Linked DNA regions of Homo sapiens: region 1 is linked to region 2. A link means that fine-mapping ties the variant in region 2 to the expression of a gene that starts in the linked region. Tissue or cell type: unexposed skin. Region 2 holds a variant in brackets; the other region holds the start of a gene. All regions are shown on one strand. Distances are between the middles of the regions.

Evidence for each region. PIP is the estimated chance that this variant, and not a neighbour inherited with it, causes the effect.
Region 1: it holds the start of LAMTOR3, and the variant in region 2 is fine-mapped to the expression of LAMTOR3 in unexposed skin (GTEx, PIP above 0.99).

What each region holds. Positions count from the first base shown.
Region 1 is chr4:99,889,882-99,897,883 of GRCh38, reverse strand. LAMTOR3 (late endosomal/lysosomal adaptor, MAPK and MTOR activator 3) reads left to right here and starts at 3,457. Exons shown (of 7, transcript NM_021970.4): 1 at 3,457-3,549; 2 at 3,884-3,929; 3 at 5,850-5,884. The coding sequence starts at 3,921. It overlaps DNAJB14 (DnaJ heat shock protein family (Hsp40) member B14), which reads left to right. Exons shown (of 8, transcript NM_001031723.4): 8 at 1-1,636. RefSeq lists a silencer at 3,269-3,358.
Region 2 is chr4:99,974,538-99,982,539 of GRCh38, reverse strand. The region is part of intron 1 of H2AZ1-DT (H2AZ1 divergent transcript); the gene reads right to left. Among named protein-coding and RNA genes, the nearest start is that of H2AZ1-DT, 28 kb to the right of the region's middle. The variant A/G (reference allele first, on the strand shown) is at 4,060.

The sequences.
Region 1 (8,002 bases), 85 kb after region 2:
ATCAGAGGACCAAATGGTTAAGAAGAGAATTTGTACATTTCTTGAGCTTCCCCATGTGAAGCTTGGGTTCAGTACTATCCTATTACTATCCATCTTCATAATGAGTGAAGCAAACTGAAAGGGAATTCATAATCTTTTTTCTTATCTGAACAGAAAAACTAATGAAAATCAACAATAAATCTTTATTTTAATTTTCATTCAACAGCTGAAAAACCATGTCTGTTGACCACATTGGACCATTGCCTAGTTAAAATCCATAAAATTCCCTATAAACCAATGAAAAGAAACTTGTCTGGCAATAATTTCCAACATTTTAAATTCTAATTTTTAGTTACAAAGAAAAAGGATAGAATGAGGCTTTTCAAGGAATTCTTGCTCATCCCTTCAATTATTTGGCAGGTAAAACAGTCCTAGAATTCAGCTTCCTTTTTGGTTTTATTACTATTAAATAGATACTTTCATATAAATGGAAACACTTTTCCTCAAAACATTAATTCAAAACATACTCCTTATATTAAGGATTATAGCACCATATTTTTTGTATATTCCCTATGTGTAACTTTTTCCTGTTGGTATGTGATATTTTTCATTTAATATGACTATCTGCTGGTGTTGGGGCCAATAGATTTGTGAATATTCTGTGGATGTGTCTATGTATAGGTGTATATATATATATATATATTTTTTTTTTTTTTTCCCAGCTAATTACCTCAAATGTGTGATTGTTTAATATATACCACACTATGTTTGCACAGAGCAGGGCTTCCATTAGCAGTGGATATTTTTATGTCTGACTTTGAAAATCAGTCAACACAATTTCATTGGTGTGAATTATTTGTTGCTCTTTTTCATATTTTAATGGAGAGATTCCTATTATAAGGCCCATGCTTCAAACATAATTATATCTTTCTATATCCAGCCATCTGGAAATACATAGGGGTAAGAAGTATTTCTTGAAATGTCCTTGTTTAGTAAGTTAGTAAAAACTGGGATGACTAGTTGCCAAGATGTCTTGTAACTGCATAGCAGATGACACCTGGCATGGCAAGTCTCATTCACTTCAGCACAACACTCTGTACATTTCAGTCTGATATTCTACTTTGCCATTTAAGGACACCATTAAAATCATAGAGATTTTCAGTGACATTGGAGTATTGTAATTATTACTTTCAAAAAATTATTTTTAATAGGATGATTAAACCAATGAGAAGAAACACACATAAATGATATTTTGCAGTTTATCTGTATTAAGAAATGCTTCTTGCCAATTTCTAGTTTTAGTTTTTGGATTGCTACATAAGACTTTCTTTCCATTTACTTTATGTGTTTTTAAAAGCTGCAGGTAATTTTTAAGGTTTGATGGAATTATAATGGAAGCCTTGTATAAGTTAAATGAAATTGGTAAAGGAGAGCTTACTTTGTCTATAATGCATTCAGGATTAAAAATTAGATTTCAAAATGAAATGTCTGATTTGTAAAATATTTAATGTTATATCAGACTTACATAAAATTTTCTGTGAGAACTCAAATGCATTTGATTTTTAATGAATGTTCTGAATGAAATATGAATTTTTGTCTTTCAGTCTCTGTAGTTTATCTCAATATATTAATAAAAAGGTCTGTTCTCACTGTAAAATGTTTGTTTTTATCATGTTTTATACTCAATATGGCCACTCTTTCATTCATTCAACTATTCAACAAGTATGTCAATGCTTGCTATATCCCAGGCAGTGAGCTGGGTGCTGGGAATTAATCACTGAATAAGAAAGACAAAAACCTTAAAGAGTTTACATCTAGCAAAGAAAATAAATATCAAGTAAATAATTATAATTATGATAAATTCTACAAAGAAAATTACAGGGTACAATGAAAGCATTTATCTAGAAGACCTAAACTATTCAGTGAGGGTCAGGGAAGGCTTCTCTGAGAGTGAGTTTAAGCCAAAATGCAAAAGATGAGATTAGTAGGATTAAGGTATGCTAGAGAAATATCTCAGGCAGAACGTGCTAAGTTGGTAAAGTGATAAAAATCTTTATGGAAGTGAAAACAAACTTGTATGATCATAGCATAAGGAATCCAGGGTAGGTGAGAGAATTAAGATAGGGGCCAGATCCCCATAAGAATGATATATAAACCATGATGCTGATATTGAACTTTATCCTAAGTCAATAAACTTGATTTTCAAGGAAGGAGTTAAATGATGTGATTTGGGTCTTTAGAACATCATTTTTGTTGCTGTGTGGAGACTGGAGGGCAAAAGAGAATGTAAGAAGAATAGGAGGTTGTTGTCAAAAGAGAGATGATCATGGCTTGGAGTAGGGTAGGAATATAGATAGGTGAATAGTTTTCAAAGATAGGAGGTAGAATCAACAGAACTCTGATTAGATTTGTGACATATGGAAGCAGCAATTGAAAACCAGGCTAAAGTTTTCTGAAAATTTGGCTATGAAAGGGAGTAGAGGAAAAACAGTGTGGTAGCTGAAAGAGGATGCGATTTCTAAAGAAGCTTTTCTTTTGAGGGTCTCGCTCTGTCACACAAGCTGGAGTTCAGTGGGGCGATCACCACTCGATGCAGCCTCAAACCCTGGGCTCAAGGGATCCTCCTGCCTCAGCCTCCCGAGTACCTGGTGCACGCCACGTTCGGATAATTCTTAATTATTATTATTATTTGTAGAGATGGGGTCCTATCTTGCCAGGCTGCTGTGGAACTCCTGGGCTCAAAGGATCGTCCCGCCTCGGACTCCCAAAGTGCTGCGACTACAGGCGTCAGCCACCGCACCCGGAAAGCCTTTTATTTTTTTCAATTATTATTTATTACATGAGACCTTACTAATTTTTAAAAATTCTGATGTAAAAGGGAACATAGAAGGTGCCCGTAATCAGTGTCTGCATGTTAAAAGTAGACGCTTGAAGTGCTCCAGAAAACCCATGGCTCCTCCCCATTCAATCTAGGTAAGGCCTTCAGTAAAGAGCACCCATGGGGAAGTCACAAGAGCCTAGGAAACAGGTCAGAAACCTGTGGACCTGGTACTTCCAATCACAGGCAATCTGGTGCTTGCTCTTCAGCTCATCACACCATCCCCTCAAATTTCTTCATCTACAAGAAAAGGTTTTAAGATAACAGACCCTGCAAAACTAATGACATTTATACACCCTCTCTGCACAAGAATGTCTTGTAACACATAACCTTGCTTGCATTTTCTGGGTTCCTTAGGGTCCAGCGATCTCGTACAAATCTACCCCACAGCTGACTTCCTTCGGCCCGTGACACAAGGCGCAGGCGCAAGACGCGGCCCGCGGTGGGCGGGGGAGGGGCGGGGCGCGTGCGGGGCGGGGGGGAGGGGAGGGGCGCGGCCGCCGGACGCGCCCTCGCAGCTTCCGCCGGGCCCCTCCGGAAATCCCGTATCGTAGGGCGACGGCGGCTTAGAAAGTGCTTCCTGGAGCGCAGACGAGGTCATGAATCATGTGACGGTGGCTTGAGGAGGAACCTGTCTTTAAAGCTGTCCCTGAAGTGACAGCGGAGAGAACCAGGCAGCCCAGAAACCCCAGGTAACTGGCGCTACTTTGCCTGGTTTTGAGGCCTAGTCCCGCAGGTGGCGCGGGTGGTGAGATTAAACAGAAGGAGAGGACCCTCTCTTCTTTTCTTTGGGCCTAGCTCTTTGGGGTGGAGGGGCAGGGATGGGGTGGGCTGAGGTAAGGTGTGCCAGCTGAGTACCTGTGGGGGTGCTGGGGCACTCCGACTCCCACTGGGCTCGCTGGGCCAAGCCCTAGAACCGCGGGGGTTTTACCTGGTTCTGACCAGGGCTGATCTCGCGTATTAAGTTGTGGGTGGGGAGGACGAGGAAGCCAAAGAGGGAAGAGTCACCGGGAGTTTCTCTTCCAGGCGTGGAGATTGATCCTGCGAGAGAAGGGGGTTCATCATGGCGGATGTGAGTGACACCCCTACATAAGAGGAAGGGGAGAGTGGGGAATTTTGAGGGGCATACTGAGCGGGGAGAGGTAGAACTTCCCAAACAGAAATTTGTTTTGATCCTCCCAGCCCCACCCATCCCAGTTAATTATTTTCTCTGATATCTGAAGTGGGAGACTAATATGAATGAATTTGCAGGATCCTGAGTTTCTGCCTCGAATGGGGGTGTAGGACACTAAGGTGCTTGAGACTGAGAAAATTAGGTTCTCCCTACTCCCCAGTCCAGCTGGGGCATAAGAGAGGCTCTGTATATTTACCATTTGAAATTCTGAATGATGGTTTGCTGCTTTTCCTGTCAGAATTTGGTCAGTAGGACATGTACCCACAATACTTTTTTCCAGTAAGTGATAACAATATCTCATTTGGTTTATTGTAGCAATTTACGATGATTTCTAACCCATGCCTCTTTAGAAACATGGTAACGTGTGTGTGTGTGTGTGTAGGAGGATAAAATGATCAGTCGGGTTTGGAGAATAGTAAGTGCTGGATGCTCAAAACAAGAGATACCTGATTAATCCATGTGAGGTCAAAATTGATACCTAAATTGTCAGTGAAATTCCTGGGATAAGAGAGTGTAATGAGACAAAATAAGATAGTCTTCTGGCCAATGCGGTTGCTTAGTCTGTAATCTCAGCACTTTGGGAGGCCGAGATGGAAGGATCACTTGAGGCCGGGAGTTCAAGATCAGCCTGGGCAACATAGCAAGACCCCGTTCTACAAAAAGAAATTTAAAAATCAGCCAGGCGCATTGATACCTCTGTAGTCACAGCTATGCTGGAAGTGAGGCGAGACGATTGCTTGAGCCCAGAAGTTGGAAGTTGCAGTGAGCCCCAGCTTAGAAAAATAAAATAGTCTTCTACTTCTTTAGTCTTAACTGTGTTTCGTGTTAAACACTTGACACACATTGTCATTTATTTTATATTCTGTAACACTGGGCTGGGCGCGGTGGCTCACGTCTGTAATCCCAGCACTTTGGGAGGCCAAGGCGGGTGGATCACCTGAGGTCAGGAGTTCGAGACCAGCCTGGCCAACATGGTAAAACGTTGTCTTTTCTAAAAATACAAAAAATTAGCTGGGCATGGTGGCAGGTGCTTGTAATCCCAGCTACTCGGGAGGTTGAGGCAGGAGAATCGTTTGAACCTGGGAGGCAGAGGTCGCAGTGAGCCGAGATCGCGCCATTGCACTCCAGCCTGGACAACAAGAGCGAAACTCCGTCTCAAAAAAAAAAAAAAATGTTGCCTCACATAGTCATATAGAATTTATTTTAGGTCCTTAAACAAAATATTTTAAAAATTACGTTATAATAATATGCCTTACACTGTTTCATTATTTGTTGAGTAGGTGAGTTCAACAAATAATGAAACAATGGAAGGCATATTTTTATAATGTGATAGTCACGTGAGACAACAGTCTTACAGAGGTCATATCACCTTACCCAAGACCATTAAGATGATGGTGGAAAGTCTATCTTTGAACATGGAAAGGTGTTTATAACGTCTTCTCAAGTGAACACAATAGCAACAGGATGTAAAACACTAGTATGAAAATTATGATGTAATTTTATGGCTAAAATGTGTTTCCCATTTCTAGGTATGCTAATCCATGCATCTTCTCAATAAACTTTTAACAACACTTTTATGATGTAGGTTCTATATTAGCCCTATTCAACAAATAATGAAATAAGCTTAGCGAAAAAAGGTTGGTTAACTTACTCCAAGTTGCGTGACTAGTAAACATCCAAATCAGACAGAGAAAGATAAAACACAGCAAGAAAGGTTATGAATGATAACTGAAGTTCCTTAAAATTTGGATAGGACAGGATCTAGAAAACAGTGGAAGGCCTATTATTACAACATTATTTTTTAATGCTCTCTTTCAGGACCTAAAGCGATTCTTGTATAAAAAGTTACCAAGGTAAGAAATTTTTAATTTGTTATTGAATAAATTCTATATGCCATATGTTAATTTTATGAAGCATTTTGTCTGTATTTTCCATGTTGTGAAGTATCTCTGAGATTTCCTTTAATATGAATATTTTTTGCCAGCCTCACGTCCTCTGGAAAATTTTCGTCACAACCGCTTTCCTCATTTATGTCAATAAGTTTGCCTTCACTGAGTTCTCTGTGTATCTAGAGCGATAGTGTCAGCATTCCCTTGGTCATCTGTTTCTTCTATAATTCTTTACTTTCTATTTGAAATTCAGCATTTCTATTTGAAATTTCAGCATTATTACTTTTCATTTCTTTGCTGTATTTCGTCTTTGTTGGCCAGTTTCCTCTTTTTATTATCTCTTTTTCTAAATGTCACATACTTTATCATTGGGAGACAAGGAGGTACAAAACTACATGCTTTGCTATCTCTGCATGAGCTGCATAACAGATGCACAGTGACCAACCATCAACATACTTTGAAAGAAATGATGTGGCTGGTTACTGATGACAGTGTGCATCTGTTAATTACATAATTATTTATGTAGTGATTTGTGGACTAAAGAGTTAGAAAAGTTTATACTTTACGTAGTTATTGAGGTATTATGCCATGCTAACTAAAATTTGACCTGTGCTCTTCTGCAGGGAGTGGTATTACTTAACCATAGTAACTAAAATGTGCATATTGGAACTATGCAAAATGAGGGCTTTCTGTGTTTTTCTGTAGTTACCTTAGCGTAATGAAAGGGCGCTCAAATTGGGACGGAGAGATACCCCACTACGCTGGTGATATGATGAAATAGTTAATAGTACATAGTTAATTCACTTAGAAGTCTTAGTGATTTACAGTCCTCTTTTGAGTGTTAGCATCTCTTATTGAAGAAACAGCAAAATTGCATTCAATGTTCTTAAGTTATAAACCGACCAGAAAGATACTCATTAGTCACCTGGAGATCTAATAAAGCAATAATTGATTCTAATTACATCATCTGTGATTATAAGCAATAAAAATGTTTCAGACAATGGGGATCTCATTTTAACTATTAAGTGTGCTCTCAAAATCATAATAGCGTGTGACACTGGATATGATGAAGCTGTCTGTGTAAAGGAATTAGAGAATAATACCAAAAGTATTTATTATATTACTGAGTAGTTCTAATGTTGATCAAAAATAGTTGGAAAGTAAATGCTTGCTTCTTCTTTGAATTTAGATGTCTCTTATCTTTTAACAAAAGGGGAAATATCAGGTTGTTGTGCTTATCCAAGAAATAAATTCAGTTAAAGGATATTTGTTAAAAGCTTTATGAAAATCTTTCATAATGGCAGGAAAGGTATTAGTACTGTCAGTTTTTTTTTTAATAATGAAAAAAAGCCAGTTCAACTCATTATATCATTTATTGAAAATAGGCTTATTGCATCCCAGAACAGTAATAATGAAGAAATAATAATGTTTTGAACATTTATGAAGAATAGTAGAATATACGCTTTGATTTGTTGCTAGATGTATGGGTTTGGATGCAGGCATCCTGCTTCAGAGCCATGGATTCATGCTTTTAACTGTTGTACCTCAGTGCCTCTCAGTAACAAAGTCAGCCAGCTACGGATACTAATGGAATGTGTGTTTTTGTGCGTTTTTTGAATTCTCTGCAAAATATCGTTCTTGTATTTGCAATTTAAAATCTGGTTGTGACCCAAAGCAGTCTCAGGCTTTAATAATCCCACTTTGTATGTTTTAAAACAACCAAATATTTCATAATTATGTGTATAAAACTAAATCCGATGTCTTTGATTAGTAATGCAACATTTGTTTTTAGAAAAAAATGGTTGTTTTAGTAAGCTTAAGGTTTAGATTTCTTCAGAATATTTCACAAAATTTAATTCATTTCTTCTAAAAGTGTAGTATCTCTTAATGAGCCAGTTATTTTTAATTATTAGTAAATTCTATTTATATTACTCTTTGCGCATTGTATGTAGAATTGAAAACAGCTTTTATATTTGTGACCTGATTTCTAAAATTATATACTTAAGAGTGTAAGTAATTTTTCTACTTTCTTGATTCATTTCTCTGTGAAGTCCATCAAAAAGAAAGTCCTTTTATTTTCTT
Region 2 (8,002 bases):
TTTCTCAGAGGCTTAGAAACAAAAGTTGGAGTCTGGTTCAAATTGAAGGCTGATTCCAGACTGGCATAGTGCTGTGACATACATGTATTATTTTTATTAAAATATAATAAAACTCAGCTTTCTCTTTCCCATCCCCTCCCCTTCACTTGCCCTTTCCCTCCATTTCCCTTTCTTTTTTTGAGCAATTCAGTCTTAAAAACATTAGGTGGAGCAGAGCCAGACAGGAATCAACAAAGGGACTGACTTGCATGAGGTGTCAAACCCAGGAAGAATGAGAAAGGCAACCACATTGGCAGGTGGTGTCAATGGGAGAAGGGTGAGGAGGGCATCCACACAGGAAAAGGGAGCTAGAATGAGATGTCAGCTCCCAAGTGGTGTGAGAAAGGCCCCCACACAGAGGGAGCCTGGCATGGGGACTTGGAGCCCAAAAGAGTGAGGATGACACACTTGAGTGACAGTAACCTGGCATCACGTGTCAGACCCAGAGTCACATGAGGAGGGCTTTCAAATGGGTGCAATGGAGAGGGGAGAGACTTGGCTCAGGATGTGAAAGCTTATGCAGGGTAAGGAAGGTCCTTACACAAAGGAGATATGTGGTATGGGATATCAGGGCCCGAAGAGAGTGAGGAGGGCATCTACCTGGGGAGGCAGTCCTGCAGTGAATCAGAGCCTGAGGAGGGTATCCATGCATGGGGGCAACTTATGGGTTTCAAAGCTGGAGTGGATTAAGGGGGAGTCCATATAGGAAGAAGACCCCGTTTGGGGTGTCAGAGTTCAAGGAGGATAAAGAAGTCATCCATGCAAGGAAAGTAGCCTGATGTGGTATATAAGCCTGACCAAGGAAGATGCACATTTGGTGGGAAGGAGGTAACCCTGTCTCAGGAGGGCGAGGGGAGGTGGGGGGCTTCTACTTGGGAGAGGCAGAGCAGCAGATTGATAAAATAAACACAAAAAGGAGAAAACTAGGTTGGATTCTCTGGTGTTGGATTGGAATTGAAGGTGCCAATGTAACTCATGGATTTCTATTTTTTTCTTTTTGAGACAGAGTCTCGCTCTGTCGCCCAGGCTGGAGTGCAGTGGCACGATCTCGGCTCACTGCGAGCTCCACCTCCCAGGTTCATGCCATTCTCCTGCCTCAGCCTCCCAAGTAGCTAGGACTACAGGCGCCCTCCACCACACCTGGCTAATTTTTTGTATTTTTAGTCGAGACAGGGTTTCACCATGTTAGCTAGGATGGTCTCGATCTCCTGACCTTGTGATCTCCCCGCCTCGGCCTCCCAAAGTGCTGGGATTACAGGTGTGAGCCACCACACCTGGCCATGGATTTCAATATTTAGAGATAGATGTAGAAATTAATGCAGTTTTAAATATGTACATGTGTATTTACACGTATGTGTGTGCACATATGTATGTGTCCACATACATATACTTCCTACATCTAACCACTGACAGGGCCTTGGAGCACTGACCACCCCATCCACACACCCCACCTGCGGTAGGAATCAGCACACCAAGCACCCAGATCATGGCTTAAAAATCAGTGTCCACTAAAAGGAGCCAAGTCTTCCTTGAAGAAGTGACTGATTTCAGGGATGGGCTTGACGAAGTACTAGATGGGCCTGAAATATCTTGTCTTCAAAAGCAAGGAAGTGCCTTAGAAAAATAGGGACATGTAAAGCACATGGGCATCAGCTTGAAAGAGCTCCTACTGGTCAAATCTGGGGCCCTTAAGCCTGGTAGTAACAGTAGTAAAAATTTATTATGCATGGCTTCAATTTATATAAATAAATGAATACATAGAAAATTTGATGAGAAATAGAGTGTGGAGCAAAGTTTCAAAGTATCTCTCCACAAAATACTTAGAAATTACAAAAAAAAAAAAAAAGAATAATTCACAATGGAGAAAGCTGGCAGACTATACCTTAAGTGATTCAAGTTAATAGCCTCAATAGTGGGACAAATTTAAATTATTAGCGACCTGATAGAATGAAATTCTGTGATATTCCTGCCATAGATGCAAAATCTGAATATAACCATAAAGAAACATCAGACAAATCCTATTTAAAAACATTTTACAAAATAAGTGTCCTGTAATTTTGTTTTAAATGGTGAAGGTCATGAAATTCAAAGAAAGGCTGAGGAATAATTCCAAATTGAAGAGACAAAAAAAGACAAATACAACACACAATTCTGAAATAGATCCTTTTGCAATAAAGGACATTATTGGGACAAATGGAGAAATGTAAATGGGGTCTGTGAACTTGATATGGATTTGATGCTTGTAATGTAGAAATGATAATCTCTTTATTATAGTGGTTATACTATGGTTTATGTAGGAAGAATGTCTTTGTTTGTAAAGAATATACCTCAAAGTATTTGAGGGTGATGAGTCAGCCACTTACTGTCTAATGATTTAGGAAAATAACATTCTTTGCATTGTACTTGTAATTTTTCTGTACATTTGACAGTATTTCAAAATTTAAAAAAAGTTTTTAAAAATAACCTCTTTTATGACTCATGTCATTTTCTCAGTAAGTTCTTCTCTGACAATCCCTTTAAAACTGCAACCTCTGCCCAGCACTCCCATTCCTTTATCCTAATTTATTTTCCTCATAGTATTTATCCTCATGCATTCCACATAATTTACTGATATATTTGCTCTCTACACCCCCACCCCCACTCCATTCCATTTCTAGAATGTAAGCTCCTTGAAGGTAGGATGCTTTGCTTTTGTTCATTGTTGTAAATCAATGTGTAGAACAGTGGCTGGCATATGATATGTACTCAAATAGTCATTAAGTTACTGAATATAATTGGTTGTTCAGGGACAGGTTCTATTTTTGCTCTATAAACTGATAGCTCTTTGTTCATCAAAAGCCCAGAAGGCTATTGAGTTTCACTGTTTAAGTCTAAGTATGTTAAACAAGGTAGAGAGTTAGGGATTTTTAGAACTCAATTAATTCCTTCATCCTAACTTCTAATTAAAAAAAATCCAAAAGTAAGTATATGAATGGGTATCAATGAAGTAACAAAATAGATCTCACAAGTTAGCAATAAAATACATTGCCATGCTTTGCATGTATATATATGTGTGGGGGAGGTTGATTTAAAATCATCTATATCTTGTTTATATTGAGATTCTGCCACAGAGTTGTCAATAAAAACTTCCTGAATATTAATTATTTCTTAATATTCAACAGACTACTCCTTGCTAAATCAATATTTTGCTCTTATAATGATTCATGAGTTTCACTTGTATTGAAAATGGCGGTTGTAAATATTTTTGAGTCATAGAAATTTGGCATTATTATGTACATTTAAGACTATTTTAAGTAAAGTTTTTCTAAAAAATGTTATTTAATTACAAATTAACATCAACAATTTATGGTATCTTTATATCTTATTGGTAGGCAGGTATGTGTGTTCAATTTATGATTTCAAATATCTGTGATCTTTTAAGGTATCTGCCTTTTCCTTCTATCATTAGAATCTAACAAACTAGAGATTTGGCTTTGTTTCTTACGACCTAAAAATATACTTCTTTGTTTAGAAATAGAACTATTTGTTGACAGCATCACATATCTACAAGGCAATTCTGAAACAAGGGCAATGTAATAGTTTCTTGCATAACAACAACAACAAAACGCCCCCCAAAATCCCAGTAGTGCCTAAAGTGAACATTTCTGTTTTTGTGTGTGTGTTTCATTTGTGGTTCTGAAAATACTCATAAATTAGCATGATAATCACCAAGTTGTACATGGTGGCTGAGGAACAATTTTCAATATTACATAACTGAATATATAAATCTAGATATAGCATCAGTTGACTGTGCTATCAGTTTTTTACATTAGTATACAGATTAGATCTTACTTAAAAGACTATAAATTACAACATAAGTGATAGCAATGAAATTTTAAATGTTTTGTAAAATCTCATGGGGTAATATTAGTTTATCATATGCAAACCAATGCTCAAACATGATATGTAAAATTCATGGTCCATTACTAAATCAAGTATTGCTTTAAGAATTTCATTAAAAATTCCAGATGTTATTGTTTC[A/G]GCAGAGTGATAGTTTGGCCAATTAAAATTAATTTTAAAATCTATCAAAAAGTTTTAATAAATCAAGCAATGTCCTCTCATTTAGCATGCTGTCAATACAAATTAAATGAAAATATTGATTATAACATAATTAGCAATTTTTCTAAAATGAAGAAAAAAATGCTTATGAAATAAATATATAATAATGTATTCATTATATATATCTTTGCTTTATACCATTCAAACATCACTGGCCTATCACTAGAAGGCCAGACATGCCAAGCATAATTAAAATAAATCATCTTTTACATTTACTAACTTGCAGCTATTTAAATGTAACATAGTTCTTCACATTTAAAAATGTTATAAATATAATTTTGTCAATGTAGGATGATAAAACATTTTACTCAATAATTTGTTAACTTTAAACATGTAAATATTGAGGAATATAGTATGTATGCCTCCACAAATGCTAGGGCTAATTTGGTTTTTGTTTGGTTTTGTCTGTTTCTGAACTTTTATTTGAAGCTCAGGGGTACATGTGCAGGTTTGTTCCATTGGTAATCTCATGTCATGGGTGTTTGTTGTACAGATTATTTGGCCATCCAGGTACAAAGCCTAGTAGCCAATAGTTATTTTTTCTGATCCTTTCCCTCCTCCCACCCTCCACCCTCAGGAACGCCCCAGAATGTGTTGTTCCTCTCTTTGTGTCTCATTTAGCTCCTACTTATAAGTAAGAACATGTGGTCTTTGGTTTTCTCTTCCTGCAATAGTTTGGTAAGGATAATGGCCTCCAGCTCTGTCCATCTGCTTCCAAAGGACATGATCTCATTATTTTTCATAGCTGCATGGTATTCCGTGGTGTATATGTACTACATTTTCTTTATCCAGTCTACCATTGATGTGCATTTAGGTTGATTCCATGTCTTTACTATCATGAACAGTGCTGCGATGAACATACATGTGCATGTGCCTTTATGATAGAACAATTTATATTCCTTTGGGTATATACTCAGTAACAGAATTTCTGGGTCAAATAGTAGTTCTGTTTCTAGCTCTTTGAGGAATTGCCACACTGCTTTCCACAATGGTTGAACTAACTTACACTCCCAGTAACAGTGTATAAGTGTTCCCTTCTCTCCACAACCTTGCCAGCATCTGTTATTTTTTTAAATGACTATTTAATAATAGCCATTCTGACTGGTGTGAGATGGTATCTCATTGTGATTTTGATTTGCATTTCTCTAATGATCAGTGATATTGAGCTTTTATTTCACATGCTTGTTGGCCCTATATATGTCTTCTTTTGAAAAGCATCTGTTTATGTCTTTTGCCTACTTTTTAAAGGGGTTGTTTGGTTTTTTGTTGTAAATTTGTTTAAGTTCCTTGTAAATACTGGTTATTAGAACTTGTCAGATGCATAGTTTGCAAATATGTTCTCCCATTCTGTAAGCTGTCTGTTTGCTCTGTTGATAATTTATTTTGTTGTGCAGAAGCTCTTTAATCAGATCCTATTTGTCAATTTTTGTTTTTGCTGTCATTGTTTTTGGCATCTTCGTCATGAAATATTTGCCAGTTCCTATGTCCAGAATGGTATTGCCTGGGCTATTTTCCAGGATTGTTATAGTTTTGGGTTTTACATATAAGTTCTGAATCCATTGTGATTTGATTTTGCGTGTGGTGTAAGAAAGGGTCCCACTTTCAGTCTTCTGCATATGGCTACCCAGTTATCCCAACACCATTTGTTGAATAGGGAGTACTTTCCTTATTGCTTACTTTTGTCAGCCTTGTCGAATATCAGATGGTTGTAGGTGTGCTGCTTTATTTCTGGGCTCTTGATTCTGTTCCCTTGGTCTATGCATCTGCTTTCGTACCAGTACCATGGTGTTCTGGTTACTGTAGCCCTATAGTATAGTTTGAATTCGATTAGTGTGATGTCTCCTGCTTTGTTATTTTTGCTTAGAATTGCCTTGGTTATTCAAGCTCTTTTTTTGGTTCCATATTATTATTATTATTTTTTTTTTGAGATGGAGTCTTGCTCTGTCACCAGGCTGGAGTCCAGTGGAATGATCTCTGCTCACTGCAACCTCTGCCTCCTGGGTTCAAGCGATTCTCCTGCCTCAGCACCCACCCCCACCCCCAACCCCGAGTAGCTGGGACTACAGGCATGTGCCACCAGACCCAGCTAATTTTTGTATTTTTAGTGGAGACGGGGTTTCACCATGTTGGCCATGATGGTCTTGATCTCTTGACCTCGTGATCCACCCTCCTCAGCCTTCCAAAGTGCTGGGATTACAGGCGTGAGCCACCGCACCTGGCTTCCACATGAATTTTAAAATTGTTTTTTCTATTTCCGTGAAGAATTTCATTGGTAGTTTGATAGGAATAGCGTTGAATCTGTAAATTGCTTTGGGCAGCATGGCCATTTTAAAGATATTGATTCTTACTATCCATGAGCATGGAATGTTTTTTCCATTTTTTGTGTCATCTCTGATTTCTTTGAGTAGTGTTTTGTAGCTTTCATTTTAGATATCTTTCACCTCCCTGGTGAGCTGTATTCCTAGGTATTTTATTCTTTTTGTGGCAACTGGGAATGGGACTTGGCTCTCAGCTTGGTTGTTTTGATGTATAGGAATGCTAGTGATTTTTGTGTGTTGATTTTGTATCCTGAAAATTTGCTGATGTTGTTTATCAGCTGAAGAAGGTTTGGGGAGGAGACTATGGGATTTTCTAGATGTAGGATTATGCCATCTGCAAACAGGGATAGATTGACTTCCTCTCTTCCTATTTGGATGCCCTTTATTTCTTGCTCTTGCCTGATTGCCCTGGCCAGAACTTCCAATACTGCATTGAATAGGTGTGGTGAGAGAGAACATCCTTGTCTTGTGCCAGTTTTCAAGGGGAATGCTTCCAGCTTTTGCCCATTCAGTATGATGTTGGCTGTGGGTTTGTCATAGATGGCTCTTATTATTTTGAGGTGTATTCCTTCAATGCCTAGTTTATTGAGAGTTTTTAACATGAAGGGTGTTAAATTTTATTGAAAGCATTTTCTGCATCTATAGAGGTGATCATGTGGTTTTGCCTTTAGTTCTGTTTATGTGATGAATCATGTTTATTGATGTCCATATGTCAAACCAACCTTGCATCCCAGGGATAAAGCCTACTTGATTGTGGTGGATTAGCTTTTTAATAAGCTGCAGGATTCAGTTTGTTAGTATTTTTTTGAGGATTTTTGCATCAATTTTCATTGAGAATATTGGCCTGAGGCCTTGTTGTTGTTATTGTATCTCCGCCAGGTTTTGGTATCAGGATGATACTGGTCTCACAGAATGAGTTGGGGAGGAGTTTATCCTCCTCAATTTTTTCGAATCATTTCAGTAGGAATGGTACCAGCTCTTCTTTGTATATCTGGTAGAGTTTGAATGTGACTCCATCTGGTCTTGGGGTTTTCTTGGTTGTTAGGCTATTTATTACTGATTTAATTTCAGAGCTCATTATTGGTCTATTTAGGGAATCAATTTCTTCCCAGTTCAGTCTTAGGAGGGTATATGTGTCCATGAATTTATTCATTTCTTCTAGGTTTTCTAGTTTGTGTGTATAGAGGTATACATGGTAGTCTCTGATGGTCATTTGCATTTTGGTGGTGTCAGTGGTAATATCCCCTTTGTCATTTCTAATTGTGTTTATTTGGATCTTCTGTTTTCTTCTTTATTAGCCTGGCTAGCAATATATTTATCTTATTAATTTTTTCATAGAAACAACCCCTGGGTTCATTGATCTTTTGAATGGCTTTTTGTGTCTCAGTCTCCTCCAGTTCAGCTGTGATTTTGGTTATTTCTTGTCTCCCACTAGCTTTAGGGTTGGTGTGCTGTTGCTTCTCTAGTTCTTTTAGTTGTAATGTAGTTTGTTAATTTGAAATCTTTCTAACTTTTTTATGTGGGCATTTAGTGCTATTCATTTCCAT